7 linked regions of the Homo sapiens genome follow. The protein of the gene in region 6 interacts with the protein of the main gene of each other region in a pairwise test. Each region holds a gene or a part of one and is shown on either strand. Other genes may lie near its edges. The genes, in order: ADARB1, STAU1, ZFP28, RIGI, EHHADH, PRKRA and PNPT1.

Region 1 (3,500 bases), on a different chromosome or scaffold from region 6:
AAAGGGCGATTCATTCGAGTTTACAGAGAAGAAAAAGTCATAAGAAGATTAGGGATAAGCCAGAGGAAATAAAAGTTTCCATTTCATATAAGATTAGGCGAATCTCCAAACTTTCAAAGAGAGGCGAAGAACTTTAACTTCAGAGTGAGTTCCGAGAGCCTCACTCTGAAGGTCTGGTGCTGGGGCTGATGCTTGTTAACGCAGACATCTGAGGCACATGGCCAGGGCTCAGCACCCCGTTGAGGGGATTACTGGTCTCATTAACCTGTATGGTTAATGAAGGACTTCCCTCTTAATTTGGGGGACAGATATAAGAACAAAAAAAATGCTCTTAAGAGTTAAACCCATGCCACACAGTCCCAGGCAGCACCATTTACCTGCAGTGACACGCAGGGATGACTGACCTACGTCCTTCAAGGGTTACTCTAGAAAAAGAGTGAGGGTTTTCCACCCATCCTAGAATGCACATTTGGAAATTTCCTGTTGAAGGACAATAGAGCCCACCAACAAAGCCCTAAGGACTGCTTCTGGGAGGGCCACCCGGGTCCTACAAGGAACACGTCACATTCCGGGGCTATCCTGGGGGCTCCAAAGACACAAGGTGGCAGGTTCCACTCCGGCAGAGACTCGAAGTGCAGCTCCATCCCCTCATGCCCTAGTGGTTCTGGACATGAGGCCTAGAGCCTGGTGTTCAGCACCTACAGAGCCCAGAGGAACGTGGCGTCAGGGGGCTGAGGCAGCCCTGCCCACCTGCACCCCTCCCCAGGCTGGAGCCCAACAGATGTCCCTCCAGCCTTCCCAAGCCAGGGGCTCTGGTCATGCTCCACACAGAAGTCACTGCAGGCGCACAGCCAAGCCAGGGAGGCAGGGGTGACATCTCTACTGGCACTTCGATCTGCGTCCGCCTAAGGTGCTCCTAGCCTACACACTGAAGGTTCAGACATCTGGGATCCACGGCATTTGATGTCATTTCAATGGTCTTATATGCCACTCTGTCAATATTAAGGGAAGACAAGTCACATCAGACAATATTTTGAACTCAGGCTTTAATATTTTAGCAAAGAGTAATCCTGAAAATAAAAAATCACATGGGATCTAGTAGCACTGATTTGTTAAAGTACAAATGGACTAATAATCCTTATAAACAATGTTGACGAGAGGTTAATAAGGGAAGCAAGTATTTGGTTCGTTAAAAAAATCAGTGAAATACCTTGAATATATTATTTTATACTGATGTTGCATTTGATTCCTTTAGGCAAAATAAAATACATTTCCTTCCTTTAAAACAGAACTCCTGGTCATCTCAGACTACAACTGCACAGAGGTTGTTCTAATTGTAGCCAACAGCAAAAAAGAAACTATAAGACACTTGGATTCTTCCAGGGGAACACAAGCCACCTTCAAGTCTTGTGGTCAAGGGTAGTATACATGTTATCTTCAAAGTGAAGAAGACTCTGATACAAAGTAATAAATGAATAGAGGGTCAAAAAAATAACTTTTGCAATAGACCAGAAGAACTTTGGATTTCCAAGAAAAGAAGGAATACATAATCAGAGAGTTTTAGGATTTAGAGATGAGAACTAAAGGTGATTTTCTCCTTTACTTTTTCTCTTTCACGTAAGCCAATCTAAGCCCACCCTGGAACTTCCCCTTCCTTCATCCTGATTTCACTGCGCTGGGGAGGTCAAATGGAAGGGTGGCTGTCCACCTCCAGCCTGGGCATGCGGGGAAGTCCTCATACAGCCCATGTAGGAAATTCAAAGTAGAGACTCCCAGGCAACTGGCAGGCCCTAGAACAGTTGTTGGAGGCCCCTCCCTCCCTGCGCTCTGATAGGTGCTCACTGCTGTGCTGGCTCATTCGCTGCTTTGATGGGCTCCTCGGCTTAGGAACAGCAAACAGCCACCAGCCAGTCATGTGGGAGCCCAGAGGCTGCCATCTTGACCCAGACTTGGGTTTTCAGCTGCTGACGGGCTGGTGTCACTTATCTTGAATGTGAGATTCTTGGATGAGACCTTTGAAGGAAAATGGTGCTGAACTGGGGGCAAGGTTTCAAAGACTGGGCTCTTCTTCCGTCTCTCCTGCTAAAGGCTTGCTGTGGGATGAGGGTCATGGGGGGGGTTGCCTAACGGGAAGGGAGTTATGGATAGTGTTGTAAACACTGCTCTGGTGGACGGGGTCTCAGGTGTCCCTGCCTTGCATTGCGACAGACCCAGCATGCACTAGGATGCAGACGGCTTCTCAGTGGCCACATGGCCATGGAAATCAAGCAGCCAGACTTACCAGTAACTCCTCCTGGTGGGGACAGAGTGATGTCAAGGTGGAAAGTCAACAGTAATCCTGAAACTAAAATGCTGTCTAGAAGCATTACCAAGAGCAATGACCCCGTGTTTTAAAGCAGCAGCATAGTTCCTCACCTGCGGTAAATGCAGCTGAAGACCCTCACTGGGAATAGGCTGGCGAGATGGCGTCTGATCCAAGTGCAAGTTAAAAATGGCGGCCAGGGCAGACTGCGCAGCCCGGGCCTTGGCAAGCTTCTTGTTTCTCCCCGAGCCTTCAAAGAACTGACCATCCACGACCACAGACATGACGAAGCTCTTGGCATGGCTCTCCCCGCTCTCGGAGAGGAAGTCATACTTGAGTCCTGGGCGCAGTTCGTTCAAGATCATCACGGGATTCTTCCCACTCGGGGGTGGGAATGGTGGTAAGACAGGGAGAGGAGGCTGGGCTAGGCTGGCAGGCACCGGGGAAGCAGACAAGCTGAGGTCCCCGCTGGAACTGAAGGAGTCATCCCCATTGGAGCCCACGTAAAAGGGAGGCTCCGCCTTGTCAGGAGTTTCAAAACCATTGAAGAGCGTGTCAGGGAAGTCGGCCTGGTCAGATGTGAAGTCCGTGTTGACAGACAGGGTCCTCCCCATGGCCAGGTGGGCCTCAGAGGCATTAGGAAACTGAACGAAAGACCTCAAGGCCTTCTCAGCAGCATGGAGTTTTGCCTTTTTCTTTGTGGGACCAGAGCCCTCAAAAACCTGGCCATTCACCTCCACAGACATGACAAACAAAGGCGCGTGCACGGGCCCAGTCTGGGACAGGAGTGTGTACTGCAAACCAGGCTTGATCTCATTCAGCTGCATCAGGGCGTTCTTGGGGAGGACGGGCCCTGGTGTTTTCCTCCTTTTCTTCAGGCGGTACTTGGAGTGGCCATTGCTGCCCTCCTCCAGGGGCCGCTTTCTGCCGGGGCCACCACCACCCCCATTGGAGAGCTGAGAGCCCTCGCCAGGCCCAGGTGTGCTGCCATCCTTGGGGGACACGTTGTCCAGATTGCGGTTTTCCTTCACATCAGTGCTGCTGGAACCTGTGGTGCCCAGAAAGAGTAACTTACAATGCCTTCGTTGCAGGATCTTGTAAATGCAAAATTTATAGATTCCTTTAGCTCTCTTTGTAACTGGTTAAGTGATGTGTGCTTATAAATTTTATTCCTTGATGTATACATGAAGAGTTATAC
Region 2 (3,500 bases), on a different chromosome or scaffold from region 6:
TCATTACTCCCTCCACAATCTAGAGGTACTGGTTTATGTAAAAGATCAGACACGTTTTCTCCTGTATTTTACAAAAAAAAAAAAAAAAAAACACATACCTCGGGGGATAAGCACCTCCTCTCATGTTGTAGTTATAGGTGGACTGCATCCGAGAGTAAGGGTCAACAGGCTTATACATTGGTTTTTTTCCAAGTTTCATGCACAGTGCATTTAGTTCTACAGTAGGGGTTATGCTTTCTGCAAGAAAGAATCGACAAAGAACTGTTTTTTTCTGGTATGAGAATGATACTCACTAAAATAAAATGTAATAGCATGCTTTCTGCTAATTGGATTCATGATACTTTACATAAAAGGACCTGGGTGGCTCACTGCTAGGCATCAGACAAGGAAATCCAAGAATATGCTGTGATTTCTAGATATTTATACACAGTCGACAGCACAAAATCTACTCTGAGGGTTACCAGAGGAGCCACAATTTAACCCAAGACATTATCAGTGAAAGCTATATGGTACAGCTGTCAGAAATAAGTTCCAAAACACATCAAATTTCACGATTAAAAAATCCCATGTAAATGTCCAAATTGTTTTACTGTTTGAGAATACTTAATCAATATAACCTTGGTTGTACTGATTTACAGGATTATTGGCTTGCACTCAGAAGTATGTCCGTACACAGTATTGAACGATGCATTTATTACATTACTAACTGGATGCAAAGCACTGTGCTAAGCTTAAGAAACACAATTCCTGGCCAGGCGTGGTGGCTCACGCCTGTAATCCCAGCACTTTGGGAGGCCAAGGCAGGAGGATCACAAGGTCAGGGTATCGAGACCATCTTGGCTAACATGGTGAAACCCTATCTCTACTAAAAAATACAAAAAATTAGCCAGGCATGGTGGCGGGTGCCTGCAGTCCCAGCTACTCAGGAGGCTGAGGCAGAAGAATGGTGTGAACCTGGGAGGCGGACCTTGCAGTGAGGGTGGCTCACACCTGTAATCCCAGCACTTTGGAAGGCCGAGGCGGGTGGATCACCTGAGGTCAGGAGTTCGAGACCAGCCTGGCTAACACGGTGAAACCCCGTTTCTACTAAAAATACAAAAAATTAGCCAGGCATGGTGGCGCATGCCTGTAATCCCATCTACTCAGGAGGCTGAGGCAGGAGAATCGCCTGAACCCAGGAAGCAGAGGTTGCAGTGAGTCGAGATTGCGTCACTGTACTCCAGATGAGGAAACAAGAGCAAAACTCTGTCTTAAAAAAAAAAAAGAAACACAATTCCTGCCCCAGAGGAGTTCAAAAAACACAAAGCACACTCAAAGAGTTACAATACAACATGATGTGCAACTTAAAGGTGAAAAATCAGTGAGGAGGTGGCAACCCAATTCTCTTCACAGAAGTCACACAAGGCCCACAAAATATTCAGGTATTTCCATTCTTGACATTTCTAATGAATTTGACCTGTGGTCATACTTGCTACGAAAATGAGTTCCATTTTCATACACAACAAGTTATCTCAAAATTATCAACTTCAGAAAATACATGCTATTCATTTTCCAATTTTTTTTTCTTTCAGTTCATCCAATCCATAAACCTTTAAAAACCATTTAAAAAGAAAACCAGCCTGGAAAGATTAGTGTCAGTGCACAATATTTAAAAACAACACTTTCATATCAAAAACAGAACACTAGAAATGGCAAAATCTAAATGCACATAAAAATCCACTTTAAAATGCCTCTTTAGGATGTATATAGAGAGAAATAAAAAAGACCTGATTCTGTACTATAACTGGTTCAACTAAATTTAATGCATGAATCAAATCTATAAGAATATCTTTGGGGTTTGCACAGAGGGCCACATGAATTACAGATCTCTCTCTTCCTTGCATTAGAATTATATTTTTTACAAAATTCATATAATTGCATTTTAAGTACAGTCTGAATCATTTTAAGAGCAGCTCTGATCCACAGAATTTGTCTGCAATAGAGAATAAACATGAAGAAAGTATACTGCAAAGAAATCAAAAGTAACAAGAAAGATGTGACTGGTAACTTCCCAGATTCCTTCCTACATACGAAGACCTGGGATGACTTCATGCATGTGAGGGGGTCTCTGCTAAAACAGCCATTAATGACACAGCCTCCAGGTCACTGATCCCCAACCCTTCACCAGCCATGCCTTCTTGATTAGTATGCTCCCTGAATGGGCTCCTTGTCTGAGGAGATACTACCTGCTGGCTTGTATTTAAGTAATATTTACATTTTTCTCATTCTTTTTAATAACTAAGAGACATACAACTGGCAATAAGCACTTCTGACCAACAAAATTACAATCAATATTACCACACTGACTTGATGTGACTCTAAATTAAACTTATATTCTTGCTAATCTATACACTCTTATCAAAAATATATTTTCATTAAACTTCGGAAATCTTTGAAATTATCTGGTCACCCGCCATCCTTCCTATGACCGCCTTTCCAGATTGTCAGGCGTTAAGGCATCATAGATTGGAAACCACTGCTTTACAATGAGGTTAAGGATTCCTAAAAAATAAGCATTTGTCACTGGTAGTGTAGAATCTGTGCTTTCAAAATCAACAAGTTAAGAAACCATTCATATACATACTACATGGTACCTCTAGACACACTTTTGAAAGGTACCTGTTTGGCCCATGCATAAGACCTGGATTCCTTCCTTCGCTACCAAAAGGGCTGACTATGGGCTTAGGAAATTTTGTTCCCTCCAAAGCTTTAGCAGCAGCTGTGTGTTTGACCTTTTTAATACCAGTTCACTCAGCTCCCCATTGCTGATTTCCAAGTGTCAGCAGTACTGTAAATTCCTAGAAATGAAAAGTGTGAGCTCTCAAATTCATGAAACCTGACATTGACTGTAATATGTCACTTGAACCTTGAACACTTTCTATGGTCATGGTTTAAGAGGCCTGGTCTTATCTTGATAATTCATCCTGTCATCCCCTTCTTATCCTTTTTTGTTGTTTTTTATAAACAACAACAAAAAAAAGAGATTGTGTGTGTATGCACTGAAATTTTTTTTTTTTTTTAAGAGACACAGTCTCACTCTGTCCCCAGGTTAGAGTGCAGTGGTGTGATCTTGGCTCAATGCAACCTCCACCTCCTGGGTTCAAGAAATTCTCCTGCCTCAGTCTCCCGAGTAGCTGGGATTACAGGCACCTGCCACCATGCCCGGCTAATTTCTGTACTTTTAGTAGAGACAGGGTTTCACCATGTTGGCCAGGCTGGTCTCGAACTCCTGACCTCAAGTGATCCACCTGCCTCAGTCTCCCAAAGTGCTGGGATTACAGGCATGACCCACCACGTCCAGCCTCAAAATTCTCTTCCAATTACTTCTCATGAAAGATATTTTGCAAACTTGATTTAAACACACAGCAGTACTTCACACAAATTAAGACAATGTTTGTTTTGATGCTGCAATGTGTTTGTGGGCTCTTGTTTGAAAACATAACCACCCTTTTTTTCAGTTT
Region 3 (4,070 bases), on a different chromosome or scaffold from region 6:
AAAAGAAAAGTACTAAAAGAAAAAAGCAAAGCAGGGAAGAGGGATGTGAAGAACAGGTAGGAGGCTCTGAAATTCTAGACAGGGTGAGCAGGAAAATGAGAAGGCGATTTTTCAGAAAGAAGAGAGTGATGTAGATGTCAGGGGTAACAAGGAGCCAGGTCATGTAGGGCCTGGTCAGTAACAGGAAGAGTTTTGGCTTTTATTCAGAGAAACCACTGGAGGGTCCTGAGCACAGCGTGACACAAGGTGACATGTTTGAATAGACCCCTCTGGCTGCTCATCGGGAAGGGGCTGTGGGGAGCGTGAGCAGAAGCAGGAGGTCACAGAAGCACAGTCAAGAAGCCCACAGTAAAAGGAGGACTTGGACCTGCTGCTGGTGATAGATGTGATGAAAACTGCCAGATTCTGCACATAATTTGCAAATAGAACTGACAGGATTTGCATCAGGACCAAATATGGAAGGAAAAGGCAAGAAATGAGCCAATCATGACAAGGCTTCCGGACTGAGTAACTGAGAGGATGAAACGGCCACTGACTAAGACTCAAACTGTGGGAGGAGCTGGTTTATGGGAGACTCTCAGGACTTCGGGTCTGGACAGGCTGTCTTGAGTTACCCATCAGACACTCAGGCAGAGGAGTGGAGCAGGATACACAGGCCGGCGGCTCAGAGGAGAGGTTTGGGCTCACAATGTGAATCTGGGAGGAGCCACCATGTGGGTAGGTTGTACAGACAAGGAACAGGCTACTATCCCCAGGAGACAGCATGCAGACAAAAAAAGAAAGGGCCATGAGCAGAGTGCTGAGGCACACTCTGTTCAAGTCACGGAGGTAAGAACTGTGGCAAAAACTGAGCAGTCAGGAAGATGAAAGTCAGATGAGTGTGAGATCCCAGTAGCCAAGGGAAAAAAGGGGGCCTATTGAAGGACAGGGATGAGCTATTTGAGGGATAGGTAGCCACCTGTTTTGTAACTGAAGTTTTACTGGAACACAGCCCATCCATTCATTTACATATTGTCTTTGGCTACTTTAGCTCTATAAGAGCAGAAAGGAGTAGATGCAGCAGGACTTTCAAAGCCTAACATATTTTCTGCTGTGGCCTCATCCAGCACAAGTTTGCCAGCCTCTGAGCTATTTCAAATACCAATGATAGTCAAAAAAGACTAAGAATTGAGCACTGCATCTGGTAATGTGAAGATCACAGTAACCCACTCAAGAGCAGTTTGGGTAGGACAACTGGAAGCTGGTTCATCTGTACATATATTTTTTGAGGCCTCAGTGGAAGTGAAATGGTTCATCTATTAATGAGCTAGCTATGATATTTATAGGAGAAGCCAACCGAAACAAACACAACTATTTACTGGCATGTTTTAAAGCCACAAAATCAAGTGGAAAAGCCTTTCATATTGCGCCTCCTCTCCCTAAAATGTTGTCTTTCTTTACTGTGCCTCCCAAACATCTTCTCTCCCTTCAAGGCAAGGCTCAAAAATCACCTCCTTGGTAAATAGGCCTACCCTTCCGCTACAGGAGGCTGGAAGCCAGGAGCGCCTTGTAGTCCTCGCTCATAATACTTGGCCCAAGGATGATCACATTCTAGAATCTTGCTTGTTTCCTTGACATTGGGTCAACAGGCTGTGAGCTCCAGAGCAGGGACTAGGGCTTAGCTATTGGTTTGCTCAGTGGCTGGCACAAAGTGGTCACCAAACAAACCATGTATAGCAGAAGAGTCTGCCGTGTTCCTCAAGGGGCACAATTCCTCCATCAGAGTCCCTCTGAGAAAAGCGGTACAAGGGAGAGGCTGAATCATTTCATCAATCAAGAATGAAGGCTGATTGGGATGAAGAAGAAGCAGGCATCGAGGCCCCGGGCAGTTTAAACTTTTCCCCGTAGCCCATCACTTCACTAGAACGTGAAGAAATAGAAACCCGCGCCCAAACAGGTCTCTTAAACTGAAAACTTTCAAGAAAATAAGCAACATTAAGTCCCGAAAAGCAAGACTGCATTTCAGAGACAAGAGATGAAATGCCAACTCACCTGGGACATGGCTTTAGGTTCAATTCCTGTCCCCACAGCCTCCAGCTTCTTGTTTCTCTCCTGGGGAAGAGCAGTGTCCCTGGAAGGCAGAGCTGAAAGAGAAAGGAGTAGCTAGAGACCAGGTCTACACCACAGTCCCAAATCACCAGCCTAGAAACGTCCCTTCCTGCATGAAAAGGTGGGATCAGATCATTACCCTGCCTAGGGACTGCCACAACGTGGAGATAGGTTTTTTTCCTCCCTGGGAGCACGAAAACAGGAAAAGCGTCTAGTTAGAGTCACCCTGGGAAAGTCAACACCCTTTTACCGCGGCTTGCTGCTCTGAATCAGTTGAGCTTCCAAATCTTCAGATTCTCCCACTCCACCAGCTTCAAAGACCAGGGGCACAGTTCTCCAGCAACTGGTCCCCGAGAGCCCAACCCCCTCCCAGATCTCATCCCGAGATGAATTCGTCCCTGTCCGCTCGGCCCCAAACACCTGTCACTCTCACCTCTGTGCCCAGGCCCCGTAGGGGCCGCTCCTCGCTGGCCTTTGGATGCGAGGCCATTCCTTGAGCGCGGCCTTCCCCGGGCAGGGAGGGCCAAGGTGGCTGGAGTCCCTACAGTCGGGCCTCGGCCCGCCCGGGGCTTTGTGCGGGGGGCGCCTCTACCCGGGAGCGGCGTCGGCTCGCGGACACTCGCGCTCGCCGCCCCCCGCATGTCACCCGAGGCCGCGCGACGCCCTTCCGACCGGTCCCTCACAGACCCACACCCCTGGCCACACCCGCCCGCCACGCCCAGCGAACAGCCCCGCGCGCGCTCCCCCATGGCCCGGCATCCACTGGGCCGCGCCGCGGAGCCGCCCCGCCCCCGGCCGCGCCCCGCCCCTCCCCACCCCTCCCCGCTGCCCCGCCCCGCCCCGCCCCGCCCCGCCCCGCCCCGCCCCGCCCCGCCCCGCCCCGCCCCGCCCCTCAGCCTAGAGAAGCCCGGCGCTTCCCACTTCCAGTGCGCAGGCAGCGCCGCCGGAACCGGGCGTGGCCTCGGCGCAATGCCCGCTGGGAAGCGTAGTCCCAAGCAGGGACGGATGCGGCGGCCCTCGGAGCTCAGGTTGCAAGATACGGTTTGGCCCCGGGCCTATGCAACGCCCGTCCGTCCTGCCCTCTGCGGGTCGCTCTCACTTGTCCCTGGACCGCAGCCGCCGCATAAGTGGTGGCCAACGCTGGGCCTGGGTGTGGCCGGAAGCAGAGGCCGCTCTGACTACACACCCACCCCCCAAAGGCTTCTGGGAGTCGCGCAGGCGCAGCGGCAGACCGGGTGAGGCGGGGCTTGCGGCGAGGGGTGGGACCGCAGGGCCGGAGTAAAAGGGTGCTTGGCTGTGACAGGTGCTAAGGGCCTGGGCGTCAGCTCCTTGCGGGAGCGTCACTGCCGACCGGGAAGGGAAAGGCAATCTTGGGGGCCTCCGGAGTCCGGAGGATCACTCTGATGGGTGATGTGTGTGGGCTAGGAAGGGGGATGTAGAGAGCTTGTGGGATTGTTTTGGGTGCCCCCTCACCTTCTCCCATTATCTCTGGCTACACGGGCCTCCCATCCTCCAAAATACCATTTTCCATTTTGTAACCTATGTATTTGCACGTCCTGGGTCGAAATAGTCTAACCCCAAATTTTCGTCTGGGCTGGCTCCTTTATGCCATTCACTTGTCATCGCCTCAGAGAGGGCTGCCTAACGTCTCAAAAATACCAGCCCTGGCGACCTCTTAAAGTTCCCTTCCTGTGTGAATCACGGTCTGAAGTTAGCTGATGGATTTATTCTTGAACATGTTTAGGACCGGTCTCTCCCCCAGGGGCCTTATCAGAACTGGAGAGCTTCATCCTGGGAGCCAAGGGCCTTGCTGGCTCACAGGCAGTGATGCTGTTACACCAGTCATCACAGATGCACTGACCTCTGCACGCCCAGTCACACTGCACGCCTGGTCTCCTTACTCTTGAATTGATTTCTTTCAGGTCTCCTGGCCTCAGTGATGGAATTAAGATGACTTCTATCTCTGAATCCAAGGGTGACTG
Region 4 (3,500 bases), on a different chromosome or scaffold from region 6:
GTTTGCTTCATAAGAACTTTCTGGAAAGGTTCCTAAGTGAGCTCTTGAGGACAGGATGAGAAGTTGATGTTATCTTGGCTTCCACGGTGCCACTCCCAGTAGGTGCTGTGACCAGAATACGACTCTTAAAAAGAGGAACGTACCCGCAAATGTGAAGTGTATAAAAACAGGGCTTTACAAATCCTGCTCTCTTCATCTTTGTCTGGCATCTGGAACACCATGCATGCTTTCTGAACTGTAACAATCCATTGTTCATATTTCTGTGTTCCAAATTCCCTATTTTGAATTTGAGATAAGTTTTCTGTTAAAAAAAAAAAAAAAAGTTTTTCACTGTCTCATATGGTCAGTCATTTAGGGTTATAAACAGGCCTCACCCTCTAATTTTCTTTTTCTTTTTTTTTTTCCTCGAGGCAGAGTCTCGCTCTGATGCCCAGGCTGTAGTACAATGGCACGATCTTGGCTCACCGCAACCTCCACCTCCCGGATTCAAGCGATTCTCCTGCCTCAGCCTGCTAAGTAGCTGAGACTACAGGCGTGTGCCATCACGCCTGGCTAATTTTTGTATTTTTAGTAGAGACAGGGTTTCACCATGTTGTCAAGCTGGTTTCAAACTCCTGACCTCAGGTGATCCGCCTGCCTCGGTCTCCCAAAGTGCTGGGATTACAGGCGTGAGCCACTGCACCTGGCCTAATTTTCTTTCTTACTCTCTGCAAACAGGATATTCCTCCTGAAATAGTCTTAAGTCATCTAGTTAAAACTATTTAACTGGATTCAGACTGGTGAAAAGGTGGAAGCAGGGTACCTGAGGTGGGAGGAGTAAGAAAATAGAAACTCATGTGACTCCATCACCATCTCTCCATCCTTCTGCTCCTTCCCCCATTGAGATAACACCACTGTGCTGCTGGATAATATGACAACCTCCAAACTGTTCTCCCTACCTCTTGCCTTGTTCCCTCCCTTGAGTTTTAAGCAGTGCATCTGTGTGTTTGTTTGTGTGTGTGTGTGTGTGTGTGTGTGTGTTTGATTGTTTCTTGAGTACTGTGTACCAAGAATCAAAGTACCTTACATTCATAATTTCATTTAATTTTCACAACCCATGAGATACATATTACATTTCATATATTGGGAAACTGAAGTTCAGAAAAGCCAAGTAATAAGTAATTTACCCATAGTCACACAGCAAGTACGTGGAGAAAGGGCAGGAATTCAAACCCACATGTGTCAGATGCCCAAGCTCTACTGGCTCTATGAGCTGACAACCAAAGCAGCCCAGAAATAAAACAGTAGACATGAAAAACCCAACTTTGCCTTTAAAAATGAAGAAGTAAAAATAACAGGTCTCAAGAGCTTCATCAGAGGAGGATATATAAAAGCAGGAGATTGGCCGGCCGCAGTGGCTCATGCCTGTAATCCCAGCACTTTGGGAGCCCCAGGCGGGTGGATCACGAGGTCAAGAGATTGAGATCACCCTGGCCAACAGGGTGAAACCCCGTTTCTACTAAAAATACAAAAATTAGCTGGGGGTGGTGGCACGCACCTGAAGTCCCAGCTACTTAGGAGACTGAGGCAGGAGAATCGCTTGAACCCAGGAGACGGAGGTTGCAGTGAACCGAGATCACGTCACTGTACTCCAGCCTGGCGACAGAGTGAGACTCTTAAAAAAAAAAAAAATCAAGGAGGAGATTTAGGACTCAGTTCACCCTATGTTCTGCTTTGCTGTGAACTTGGGCCTCCTGTTCTCCAGAGCAGCATTCTCAGGGCCAAGCATAGAATCGGCCCTCAAAAGACACTTATCACACATGCATCTGTCTGTGTGCATCTCCTAGGATAAGCCTCAGTTGCTTGGTTCAAAGCTGGGGCATCTGCTGTGGTCCAGGCTCTGTGTAGGGTGCTGGGGATAAGATGAGGAGACTATGGCTGTGTTCTCAAGCAGCTGAGTCTGTGAGTTACTCTGGTATCAGTTCGCCAGGGCTCCTCATGAAGAGCACAGTACAACAAAAGTCACAAGCAAGAGCTGTATTTCTGGGTTAAATTCTTCCCCTCACTCATTCATTTTCAATAATAGGAACAAAGGAGGCTACCCAAACAAGTAGTATTGACATGCTTCTTTCCAAGTTGCAGCTACAGCGAGGTGGCCAGCAGTAAAGAAGATGAGCCAACAGGTACTGATTGAACCTGGGTAGGTGTAAAAATAGCCTAAGCAGTTTAGAGATGAGCAGCTAACTGGATTCGGACTGGCAAAAAGGTGGAGGCAGGGTACGGGAGGTGGGAGGAGTAAGAAAATAGAAACTCACGTGACTCCATCACCGTCTCTCCATCCTTCTGCTACTTCCCCAATTCAAACCACATCAGTGTGCTGCTGGATAATATGACAATCTCCAAACTGGTCTCCCTTCCTCTTGCCTTGTTCCCTCTAACCCATACTCTACCCAGTGGTTAGAGGGAGTTTGCAAAATTGCAGATGAGAAATCATCCCACCCCACTGCTTAAAAGCCTTTAGTGGTCCTGCAGCCAAAATCCTGCCCCAGCTCACACACTCCTCCCCATGCTCTGGCCTCTGCTTGCTTTTGCTTCTCATTTCTGGCCACTCTCCTTTCAGCATTCTACAGGACTAATGGAAGTCCCTATACTCTTTCTAGTCTCCTGGCCTTTGCATATGCTATTCCCTGTGCCTGAAACACACCTTATCACCCCCACCACACCAGCTGCTTTAGTATTAGTATTACTTCTCTAATTTTGGTCTTACCATCAGACTAGAAATGCCCTGAGGCCAGGGGCTGTATCTTAGGGTTCATGCTGTATTCCCATCACCTAGCCCATTCCTTAGCACTAAATGAATGAACATATGCATGAACACATTCGGGAAACTGCTAAATCAAAAGGATTCAGGTAGGGAAGTAGTAGAATATAACATTGGAAAGATAAGTAGAACCTGGGTGTTCAGGCAGGGCTCAGACTGCAGGTTAGAGGCGTGAAGATTATCCTGTAGGCAAAGGGTTTTTAAGCAGGACAGGGACATGATAAAATGTATTCATGAAGACTAACTAGTTCATGAGAGGTTGAATGGAAGAGAGAGCAGAGGTAGGCAAAATCAGCTAGAAGGCTGTTAGAACAATTATAATAGAAATTAAACTGTGAAAGAAAAGGGGAGAGAAAAGCAAAATAAGTGTGAGAGGAGACACTCCATGAGGTGTCTTACAGACGTCACATTTAACATCCCTAAAACTCAAAACTCAAAACCTTGTACCTGCCAAGGCTGCTTCTAGTCCTGGTACCAGGACCACCCACTGGCATTCATAGAGGTGCCTAAGCCAGATGCCTGGGGGGAAATCAGCCCCTCCTGCCCCTTTCTCATCCCCACCCAAATCCGTTTAGCCATTCAATCATAACACTCACAGTTGGAAGCATCTCACATGTGTCTCCTTCCTTCTCCAATCCATCTCTACTGCCTCTCTTTGGTCCTTCTCATTCACTGGTATCTTTATTACGTCACTAATCAG
Region 5 (2,463 bases), on a different chromosome or scaffold from region 6:
CTATACCGTGATAGGAATTTGGAAAGCCAGGGATCAGGTTTGTGAATCCTACCCAATGGCTTGTCATATTGATACCAACCCTTACCTGTCTTCTGGCCAAATCGTCCTAATTCACAGAGCACATCAGGAATTGGGCAGTACCTCCTATTACCCCTTTTTCGGGCAGGAGTTCCTGGAAGCAATGTAGGTCCAGTAAGACCTTGCCCCTTTCTAGATTTCCAGCCCACATCCAACCCAGCAAGATCAGACACTCTAAAAGGTCCCATTTTAAAACCAAACTCTTCCAGCACCTGATCTACCTCCTCTGGTTTGCTGCCTTCTTCTAACAAGAAATATGCCTGATTGTAGTAAGGATTCAACATTCGATTCCCCACAAATCCAAAACAGTTGCCTACAACGACTCCAATCTTTTTAATCTTTTTTGATAAGTTCATAACAGTGGCAATGGTAGTGGGGGAAGAGTATTGGCTGGGAATAACCTCTAACAACTTCATGACATGAGCTGGCGAAAAGAAGTGGGTGCCAATGACCAAGTGAGGACGATCAGTGGAAGAAGCAATCTCATCAACATCCAGGGCTGAAGTATTAGTGCACAAAAATGCTTCTGGTTTGCACACAGCTGAGAGTTCAGCAAAGACCTGCTTCTTCAGGCTCATTTCCTCAAATACTGCTTCAATGACTAAATCTACACCACCAAGCTCCTTCACAGATGAAGTTAACCTGGGTTTTGGTCCTGACCAAGGGTGGCCGCTCTGTTGCATTTTGGAGGCTTCTTTTTCCAAGACAGAGGTTATCATCTTGTTTGCAGTTGCTAGCTGGTTTTTGTCCGAGTCTACAGCAATCACAGGAATCCTGGCCCTTGCAAAAGAAATGACAATGCCTCGGCCCATTGTTCCCAAGCCTGCAGATAAAAATCAAAGGAGAAAAAGAATGATTCAGTGGTATTGGGAACTGATAAATTATTCACTGGATGGAAGGCTTATGTGACAATGTGGCATTTAAAGAGATTGAGTCAAGAAACACAAATGGATTGAGTACTAGTTAAGACTCTGCACTCTCTTAAGTGTTTCAGAGGATATAAAAATTAGTCAGATTCACACACACAAATAGAAGCTATACAAACTAATAAATGAGTCCAACGAGATTGTAGGTACACAATTGATATACAAAAATCAAGTATATTTCTATATATTAGAAATAAACAATCTGAATATAAAATTAAAAGAAACAATTCTACTTACAATAGCATCAAAAAGAATAATACACAGGAAGAAATTTAACAAAGAATAGGAGGATTTGTACACTAAAAAGTACAAAACATTGTTAATAGAAATTAAGTAAGACCAAATAAATGGAAAAACATTAAATGTTTTTGTATCAGACAACTTAATATTGTTAAGGTGGTAATACTACCCAAATTGATGTGAAGAACCAACACAATTCCTATAAAAATCCCAGCTGGTTTTTTGCAGAATCAATAAGCTGATCCTAAAATTCACATAGAAATGCAAGAAATCCAGAAGAGCCAAAACAATACTGAAAAAGAACAAAGTTGGAGGATTCACTCTTCCCAATTTCAAATTGTATGACAAAACTATTCAAGGTTGGGTGAGGTGGCTCGTGCCTGTAATCCCAGCACTTTGGGAGGCCAAGGTGAGAGGATCACTTGGAACCAGGAGTTTGAGACCAGCCCAGGCAACACAGTGAGACTCCAACTCTATAAAAAATTAAAAATTAGCCAGGGGGCCAGGTGCAATGGCTCACACTTGTAATCCCAGCACTCTGGGAGGCCGAGGTGGGCAGATCACCTGAGGTCAGGATTTCAAGACCAGCCTGACCAACATGGAGAAAACCCGTCTCTACTAAAAATACAAAATCAGCTGGGTGTGGTGGTGCATGCCTGTAATCCCCACTACTTGGGAGGCTGAGGCAGGAGAATCACTTGAACCCAGGTGGCAGAGGTTGCAGTGAGCCAAGATCGCACCATTGCACTCCAGCCTGGGCAACAAGATTGAAACTCTGTAACAACAACAACAACAACAACAACAACAACAACAACAAAAATTAGCCAGGCATGATGGTGCATGCCTATAGTCACAGCTATTTGGGAAGCTGAAGCAGGAGGATATCTTGAGCCCAGGAGTTTGAGGATTGCAGTGAGCTATGATCACACTACTGCACTCCAGCCTATGTGACAGAGTGAGACCCTGTCTCAAAAAAAAAAAAAAAAAAAAAAAAAAAAGAAGCCTATAGTATTTAAGACAGTGTAAGATAGTGGTCATTGCAAAAGGATAGACATATAGATTAGCAGAATAGAACTGATAGCCAAAAGCAAACCCACACAATTATGGCCAATTGATTTTTAACAAGAGTGCCAAGAACATTCAACAGAGAAAGTATAGTCTTTTCAACAAATGATGCTGGGACAACTGGATATCCACATGCAAAAGAATGAAGTTGGAC
Region 6 (3,500 bases):
GATATATCTTGGATGACCGATCAGATTCCCATAGAAGAGGTCTGAGAAAAGGGCATTCCATGTAGAAGGAATGACAAGAGCAAAGACATAGAGAGTTAATTAGAAAATGCTTGTCATTTATTTCATAATTCGGGGGAAATTATTTTGTTTTATAACACTTTTAAAAAATATTTAGCTTTGCAGTTCCTGACCCCTTAATGCCTGACCCTTCCAAGCAACCAAAGAACCAGCTTAATCCTATTGGTTCATTACAGGTAAGTTGTACAGTTCTTTGCCTACTGATGAAATATATAATAAGTTTGTAATGTCAGAGGGGCTAACACAAGGAATTAATATTTTAAAGACAAGATAGTGATATATTTTGTTTTCCAACTTACGATCATTAGATTAACAGAGCTAACTTGAAATTATTTTCCTATTTATGTTCTGGGTTTTCTTTCATATACAGTATTTGCCTTTGGCTTATAGAATTCTCATTTAAGATCAACAGGCCCTCAGTGCACATGGGTAAAGTGTTTTATACTTTAAGAATAGTTCTTGCTACTCTTGTGACAAATCTCTTTCTACTTCTGTTGAGACAGAAGACTTTATAGAGAGCCTAAATCAAATCAGTGAACCTAACTGAAGAAAAGGAGTCTATTTGCTTATTCTACCAAAAAAAAAAAATTTTATCTATACACACACAAACACACACACATATATTCAGCTTTGAATTTCTATATGCAGAATATCCTTCTTGCAGATTATCCATGTGCTCTGTTAGGCCATTTCCCTCCCCATTATTCAGCCAGTCCTTTGGTCTCCTTTTCCTGCACAGTGAGCTTTTCTATAGTTTTCTTCACCTTCTGTCCCCCACTTTATGCAAGTCTGTTGTTTGCTGTCCCTACTCCTCATGTGTTCTTGGCCAGCTGTGGGTTTGGAAGTCTATAGCTAGGAGGGGAGGGACTTTAGGAACTGATGGCAGTGAAACCTGTAGATGGTCTCCTCTGGTGTTGCCAAAGAGGGCGGTAGTAGCCTGTTTTTCTAGTTGATGTCTGATACCAGCTCACTGTGGTTTAATGCAAGAACACCATTCGTAGCACAAAACTGCTTCAGTTTTGGTATTGGGGTATAAAAATATAAAATGCGGGAATGTCTTTGAGAAATAGAGGGTCTTCCCTCTTTTTTCTGTTGCAGAATATCACTATTCTTTTCAAACATATACATAGAAATGGGATCAAAATTAAGAAAACACTTATGTGATTGAGCCATTGCATAAAATTACTATTAAAGCCTCATCTTGATTTTATAGGAATTGGCTATTCATCATGGCTGGAGACTTCCTGAATATACCCTTTCCCAGGAGGGAGGACCTGCTCATAAGAGAGAATATACTACAATTTGCAGGCTAGAGTCATTTATGGAAACTGGTACTTATTTCTTACAATTAAAGGCATTTGAAATATTTTCAGATGATGAATGACTATCGAAATTTCTGTCGTAATGTTTTCAAATATTTCTATGCAGAAAAATTGATACACTCCTCTTTTATTGTCTCTGACTTTCTGAGGTTGAACTTAAGTATAAATATTTGGCTTAAGATACTTAGTCTTCTTAATTTGATATTTTTAAAAATCATAGATTATTAATAGAAAGACAAACTGTTGGCTCTGTACTTTAAACAGTCTTCATTGATAAATTACTGACTTAAAAAACCTCAATTTGGAGAAAAAGCTATAGTAAATCTCTTGGATTTTAACAGCTATTCTATCTAGAAAATAGGACTAGAGGAAGATTACACTTGAAAATTATATGATTAATAAGAGACTACATGGCAAATAATTGCAGTGAGATAAAAATGAAAATTATCTTTCTTAATTATAGCAACTTCTATGTTATAAAGGATATAAACTATAAGAAACGCTGTCACTTTAAAAAGTACTAGCGAGAATTCCTGTTAACTTCTCTGGCATGTTTTTGTTATTTTCAAAAGTGGCTTAAAATGGGATTTTAGCTTAGCTAGATAATAGTTTCAAGTAATAAGAAACTATTTGCCTTTGGGAGGTAGTGTGGCCAGTACAGAAAGCACCAGGCCAAAAGCAGGAACCTCAGCTTCCGTCCTTGATGCAGTCCTTGATTCGCGAAGTTAAGCAAATTACTTAATTTCTCTGGACCTCAGTTTTTTAATCTATAAAACAAAAGCATGGAGGTAGATATTTATGGTATCTTTCAACTCCACCATCCCCTGTGCCTTTCTTATTCCTGTTAAAAGGAATTTCATATAATCGTCAGTTTAGAGAAGATCATAAGCAGGAAATAGACATTGAGAGAGAGGAGTTATAATTCAGATGTATTTTAATAAATCTAAATAATTGGTCAGAATTAAACCAAATATGGTTCAGTAATGCTAGACATAGGAAAATACAATTATTATAGAAAAACAGAAAGCATAACTATTAAAGAAAAACTTAAAACAAATGTCTTCAAAAGTGTAAGAATTAGTAACTATACAGGCCTGGCACAGTGGCTCACACTGATAATCCCAGCCCTTTGGGAGGCTGAGGTGGGCCGATCATATGAGGTAAGGAGTTTGAGACCAGCCTGGCCAACATGGCAAAACCCTGTCTGTACTAAATACAAAAAATCAGCCAGGTGTGGTGGTGGGCACCTGTAATCCCATCTACTTGGGAGGCTGAAGCAGGAGAATTGCTTGAACCCAGGAGGCGGAGGTTGCAGTGAGCCAAGATGGTGCCACTGCACTCCAGCCTGGTGACAAAGTGAGGGTCCGTCTCAAAAAAAAAAAAAAAAAGAATTAATAGCTATACAAACAAAATAGCATAACAAACAAAGTTATCAGGTCAGTAAGAACATAGTCTAGTATATAATAAAAACCGTGAGGTTCTCTGATTAAACACAGTACTTCATACGTTTGATCATCCTCTGTGGACACTAATTTCTTTTCTAAATCTACCATTTCTTTTTCTTTGTTCAGGAAAGGGGGCATCAAAAAAGCAAGCCAAAAGGAATGCTGCTGAGAAATTTCTTGCCAAATTTAGTAATATTTCTCCAGAGAACCACATTTCTTTAGTGAGTAATGTTGACAGCTATGATGTTAATGTCATTAAGCATTTCTTGCAGTAGGAAACTTTCCTTGATTTCTTATTCTATAGCTACTTCAGAGTTGTGATTTTTAGAAATCTCTTCATTATTCAGTTATACCCTACCCCATTTTTAGCTGCTTCCTGTTTGTGAGTCAGGATCACAGAGGCAATTAGGTAAGAGAGCTTGGGAGACACAGTCAAATTCAGAATAATAGGACGGGATCTAAAGATGATAGGCCAGTAGTGCCATTTTTGCCTTCAAAGTGACAGCGCATTTCCATCCCTTTGTTTGTTCATTCATTCACTTAGCAAACATTTAGTGAGCTCATACTGTGTGCTAAGTGTTGTGTTGGGTACTGGGGTGCAGTGAATAAGCAGTCCCTGCCTCTAAGGAGTTTATAGACTACTGAAAGGAAGGAA
Region 7 (3,500 bases), about 120 Mb from region 6:
CATGCCTGGCCAGATATACCTACATTTTTATAAGATTTAAAATTTTTTTTAGAGATAAGAGTCCTGCTATGTTGCCCAGGCTGGAGTACAGTAGCTATTCACAGGTATGATTGTTGCACACTACAGTGTCGAACTTCTGGGCTCTAGTGACCTTCCCACTTCAGCCTTCCAAGTAGCTGGGACTACAGGCACGTACCACTGAGTCCAGTGTATTTTTATAAGATTTTAAAAAAGATTACACATTCTAAATTATGACGTCCACATACCATTTACTTTTCTGTGGAATTATAAGGTGATATTTTAAATGATGGGAATGAACAACTTGACATGTGTATCAGTAACCTCTAAACATCTATTTCAAACATCTATTAACCGAAAGTCATGATCCTTCAGCTCTTATACTAAGAACTTCCATACATTAGAGCAATACACATATTCAAATTGACCTAGTTCAATTTGATAAGTAAACAATTTTTTTTTTTTTTTTGAGACGGAGTTTTGCTCTTGTTGCCTGAGCTGGAGTGCAATGGCGCAATCTCGGCTCACTACAACCTCCACCTCCTGGGTTGAAGTGATTCTTCTGCCTCAGCCTCCTGAGTAGCTAGGATTACAGGCATGCGCCACCACGCCCGGCTAATTTTTGCACTTTTAGTAGAGACGGGGTTTCACCGTGTTAGCCAGGATGGTCTCGATCTCCTGATCTCATGATCCGCCTGCCTTAGCCAATAATCTTTCTGTTTAGGTAAATTTGAAAAATATACATCATTACTACCACATTCATCCTAGTTAGAATCTCATTTATATTTATTCCACTCTGTTTATGATTTGGTAACTAATTTGAAAGGCATTATATTATCAAAAGTGTATCAGATTAGCTCCCTCAACTCACTATATCTGTTAACAGTTCTGAAGAAATAGGCACTGGCTTTGAATATGGCCTGTTCCAGTTTGTGAACCGTTGTAGGCAAGTAAAGTTGTTGGGCACAGAGGTGACCTGTAGGATGACTGAAGGTAAACTGTCACTACTGTATACAAAGAAGAAAAATAAGATGTAGGAAGAGATCTGTTATAATAACATATGACATATTCTATCTAAGTTTTTCATATATTTCAGAATTGTAAAAACAAAACTATGTAATTTTTTCTAAGATGTATAAATGACTTACTTTTAATAATAAATATTTCTTGATTTATAATGTAAATACAATTAAACAAATATGGGTTACTCGAATTAAAAAAATGGCACATGTAAATGAGCATTTTAGTACAAATAATTAAAATGTATTTATATTATATAGAAATCTACACAATGGAAGATACTACTAAAATGTTGCTCTACAGCACATCACCCTAGACAAAATAGAATTCTAGAATTCTCTTTAAAAAAAAAAATCACTGAGAATTAGATGATGACTGTGAAATAGGTTCTCCCATTACAATACTACTTCTGTCATTCAAAGTTCTGACCACGGTTGTAGCTGGCGACTGAAGCACTTTTCGAGAAAGCCTCATTCTTCCATCGGCTGGGTCACGTCCAAAGTATTTCACCTGTGTTAAAGAAACAGATCTTCCTTTAAAGTTACAGCACATTGAGTGACATCTAAACTAATAGACATTTAAATTTACATGGTCCAAATAAGGCAATGATTGTTTTTACTTGTTCACTGAAAGCATTGTTCAGTGCTAAGTGGACGTATACACTTAACACATATAAGTAGTCATTATAAAAGAGAAAAGAGACGGGGCAGTTAGTTGTTCAACTATAATCTGCCGCTGAACTCATCTGTGCCTTTTTATTCTCACCAGGCCAAGTCCTTATACTGGGGGAACAGTCACAGGCATAGTGAATGATCCTAGACAAGGGCTTTGAGAGCCTAATTGTGTTATATACTATAGAGGATTATGCTTAGGTCACTTGGATTTTCACTACTGCTCAAAGGACCAACACATTAGTGTTTATTTGGCTTCACCTTGGAAAATGAAAGTCAGGGGCAAATGCAAAGGTTTAAAGTTCCTTCTGATGTGAAAACAACAACAACAACAACAACAACAAATAAACCAAAAAATCAACCTTATACAGAGATACTATATCTTAGCACTCATCTTCCCCTGGAGGCTACTTGGACAATAAGACTACACATTGGGAATAAACCAGAAGCCTTAGTTACTCAGGTCATGCGTATTAGCGTAAGTGAAAGACAATGTGGTGGAGCCCGAAAAAACAGACTGGCAATGACTTCTTTCATCCACTCATAAAGGACTACAAAGAAAGGGCCAATTTTGTTATATGAATTCTAGGCCTGAATAACATGGCTCTTACCAAGCTCAAAAACTTTAAGTAGTGGAGAAACAAAGTCTCACCTCCTCAAAGATGACATTCAAAGACTTTAACAAGTTACCTTATCACAGTTCTTACGTCAGTGCCCAAATCATGGAGTCTGCATAGCTAACACTAACATGCTCATGTATTTTTTAAACGAACTAAGGGTGACTACCATTTTGGCCAAGCTGCAAGCTCCTTGAGGGAAAGAATTGTGTCTTAAATCCTTAATGAGTCTGTTCAAGCAATTCTAAGATTAAAAATGAAGTACTGCATACAAATAAAAAACTTCATAGATGGTGACTCTTCTTTCAACTTTTTGAAAAAAACAATGGAAGCTTCAAGAACAATTTACAACTTCAAGGCTAAAAGGTGGAATACAAATACCTGAATTTCTTGGCCAACTTCTAATCCTAGGGCAGTAGGATGTTTAATCTGGAAAAAAAAATGTTAATCTATTAGTTGTTGTGCATAATTATGTAGTGTCCATGGAAGTACACATTTTTTCCTCAAGCTTTATTAGTTTTTCTGATTAAAAAAATCAGTTAGCGGCTGGGCGCAGTGGCTCAAGCCTGTAATTCCAGCACTTTGGGAGGCAGAAGCGGGCAGATCAAGAGGTCAGGAGATTGAGACCATCTCTGGAGGTCAGGAGAGTGAAACCCCATCTCTGCTAAAAATGCAAAAAATTAGCCGGGCATGGTGGCGGGCGCCTGTAGTCCCAGCTACTCAGGAGGCTGAGGCAGGAGAATGGCGTGAACCCAGGAGGTGGAGCTTGCAGTGAGCCGAGACCACGCCATTGCACTCCAGCCTGGGTGACAGAGAGAGAATCCGTCTCAAAAAAAAAAAAAAAAAATCAGCTGGGCATGGTGGCTCACGGCTGTAATCCCAGAACTTTGGGAGGCTGGGGCAGGCAGATCACTTGAGCTCCGGAGTTCGAAACCAGTCTGACCAACATGGTGAAACCCTATCTCTACTAAAAATACAAAAACTAGCTGGGTGTCGTGGCACACGCCTGTAGTCCCAGCTACTTGGGAGGCTGAGGCAGGAGAATTGCCTGAATCTGGGAGGCAGAGGTTGCAGTAAGCTGAGATTATGCCACTGCATTCCAGCCTGGGCGACAGAGTCAGACTCTGTCTCAGAAAAAAAAAAAAAAATCAGTTAATTATAAAGATTTAAAATA

What was found.
Region 1: the proteins of PRKRA (region 6) and ADARB1 interact in binary tests that used the Homo sapiens proteins (3 or more experiments, as listed by UniProt).
Region 2: the proteins of PRKRA (region 6) and STAU1 interact in binary tests that used the Homo sapiens proteins (3 or more experiments, as listed by UniProt).
Region 3: the proteins of PRKRA (region 6) and ZFP28 interact in a two-hybrid assay, tested with the Homo sapiens proteins (one large-scale study listed by BioGRID and IntAct).
Region 4: the proteins of PRKRA (region 6) and RIGI interact in binary tests that used the Homo sapiens proteins (3 or more experiments, as listed by UniProt).
Region 5: the proteins of PRKRA (region 6) and EHHADH interact in binary tests that used the Homo sapiens proteins (3 or more experiments, as listed by UniProt).
Region 7: the proteins of PRKRA (region 6) and PNPT1 interact in a two-hybrid assay, tested with the Homo sapiens proteins (one large-scale study listed by BioGRID).

The regions. Positions count from the first base shown.
Region 1 is NC_000021.9:45,175,580-45,179,079, reverse strand, and holds part of ADARB1 (double-stranded RNA-specific editase 1), read right to left. Parts: intron 3,351-3,500; coding exon 2,416-3,350; intron 1-2,415. UniProt on the Homo sapiens protein: Catalyzes the hydrolytic deamination of adenosine to inosine in double-stranded RNA (dsRNA) referred to as A-to-I RNA editing.
Region 2 is NC_000020.11:49,153,835-49,157,334, forward strand, and holds part of STAU1 (double-stranded RNA-binding protein Staufen homolog 1), read right to left. Parts: intron 238-3,500; coding exon 99-237; intron 1-98. UniProt on the Homo sapiens protein: Binds double-stranded RNA (regardless of the sequence) and tubulin.
Region 3 is NC_000019.10:56,537,678-56,541,747, reverse strand, and holds the start of ZFP28 (zinc finger protein 28 homolog), read right to left. Parts: upstream 2,801-4,070; 5' UTR 2,730-2,800; coding exon 2,522-2,729; intron 2,503-2,521; exon of another isoform or gene 2,228-2,502; intron 2,124-2,227; coding exon 2,032-2,123; intron 1-2,031. UniProt on the Homo sapiens protein: May be involved in transcriptional regulation. May have a role in embryonic development.
Region 4 is NC_000009.12:32,481,197-32,484,696, forward strand, and holds part of RIGI (antiviral innate immune response receptor RIG-I), read right to left. Parts: exon of another isoform or gene 302-3,500; coding exon 144-301; exon of another isoform or gene 1-143.
Region 5 is NC_000003.12:185,192,587-185,195,049, forward strand, and holds part of EHHADH (peroxisomal bifunctional enzyme), read right to left. Parts: intron 902-2,463; coding exon 1-901. UniProt on the Homo sapiens protein: Peroxisomal trifunctional enzyme possessing 2-enoyl-CoA hydratase, 3-hydroxyacyl-CoA dehydrogenase, and delta 3, delta 2-enoyl-CoA isomerase activities. Catalyzes two of the four reactions of the long chain fatty acids peroxisomal beta-oxidation pathway.
Region 6 is NC_000002.12:178,441,176-178,444,675, reverse strand, and holds part of PRKRA (interferon-inducible double-stranded RNA-dependent protein kinase activator A), read left to right. Parts: intron 1-175; coding exon 176-254; intron 255-1,291; coding exon 1,292-1,409; intron 1,410-2,971; coding exon 2,972-3,066; intron 3,067-3,500. UniProt on the Homo sapiens protein: Activates EIF2AK2/PKR in the absence of double-stranded RNA (dsRNA), leading to phosphorylation of EIF2S1/EFI2-alpha and inhibition of translation and induction of apoptosis.
Region 7 is NC_000002.12:55,634,845-55,638,344, forward strand, and holds part of PNPT1 (polyribonucleotide nucleotidyltransferase 1, mitochondrial precursor), read right to left. Parts: intron 2,756-3,500; coding exon 2,708-2,755; intron 1,549-2,707; coding exon 1,393-1,548; 3' UTR 1-1,392. UniProt on the Homo sapiens protein: RNA-binding protein implicated in numerous RNA metabolic processes. Catalyzes the phosphorolysis of single-stranded polyribonucleotides processively in the 3'-to-5' direction. Mitochondrial intermembrane factor with RNA-processing exoribonulease activity.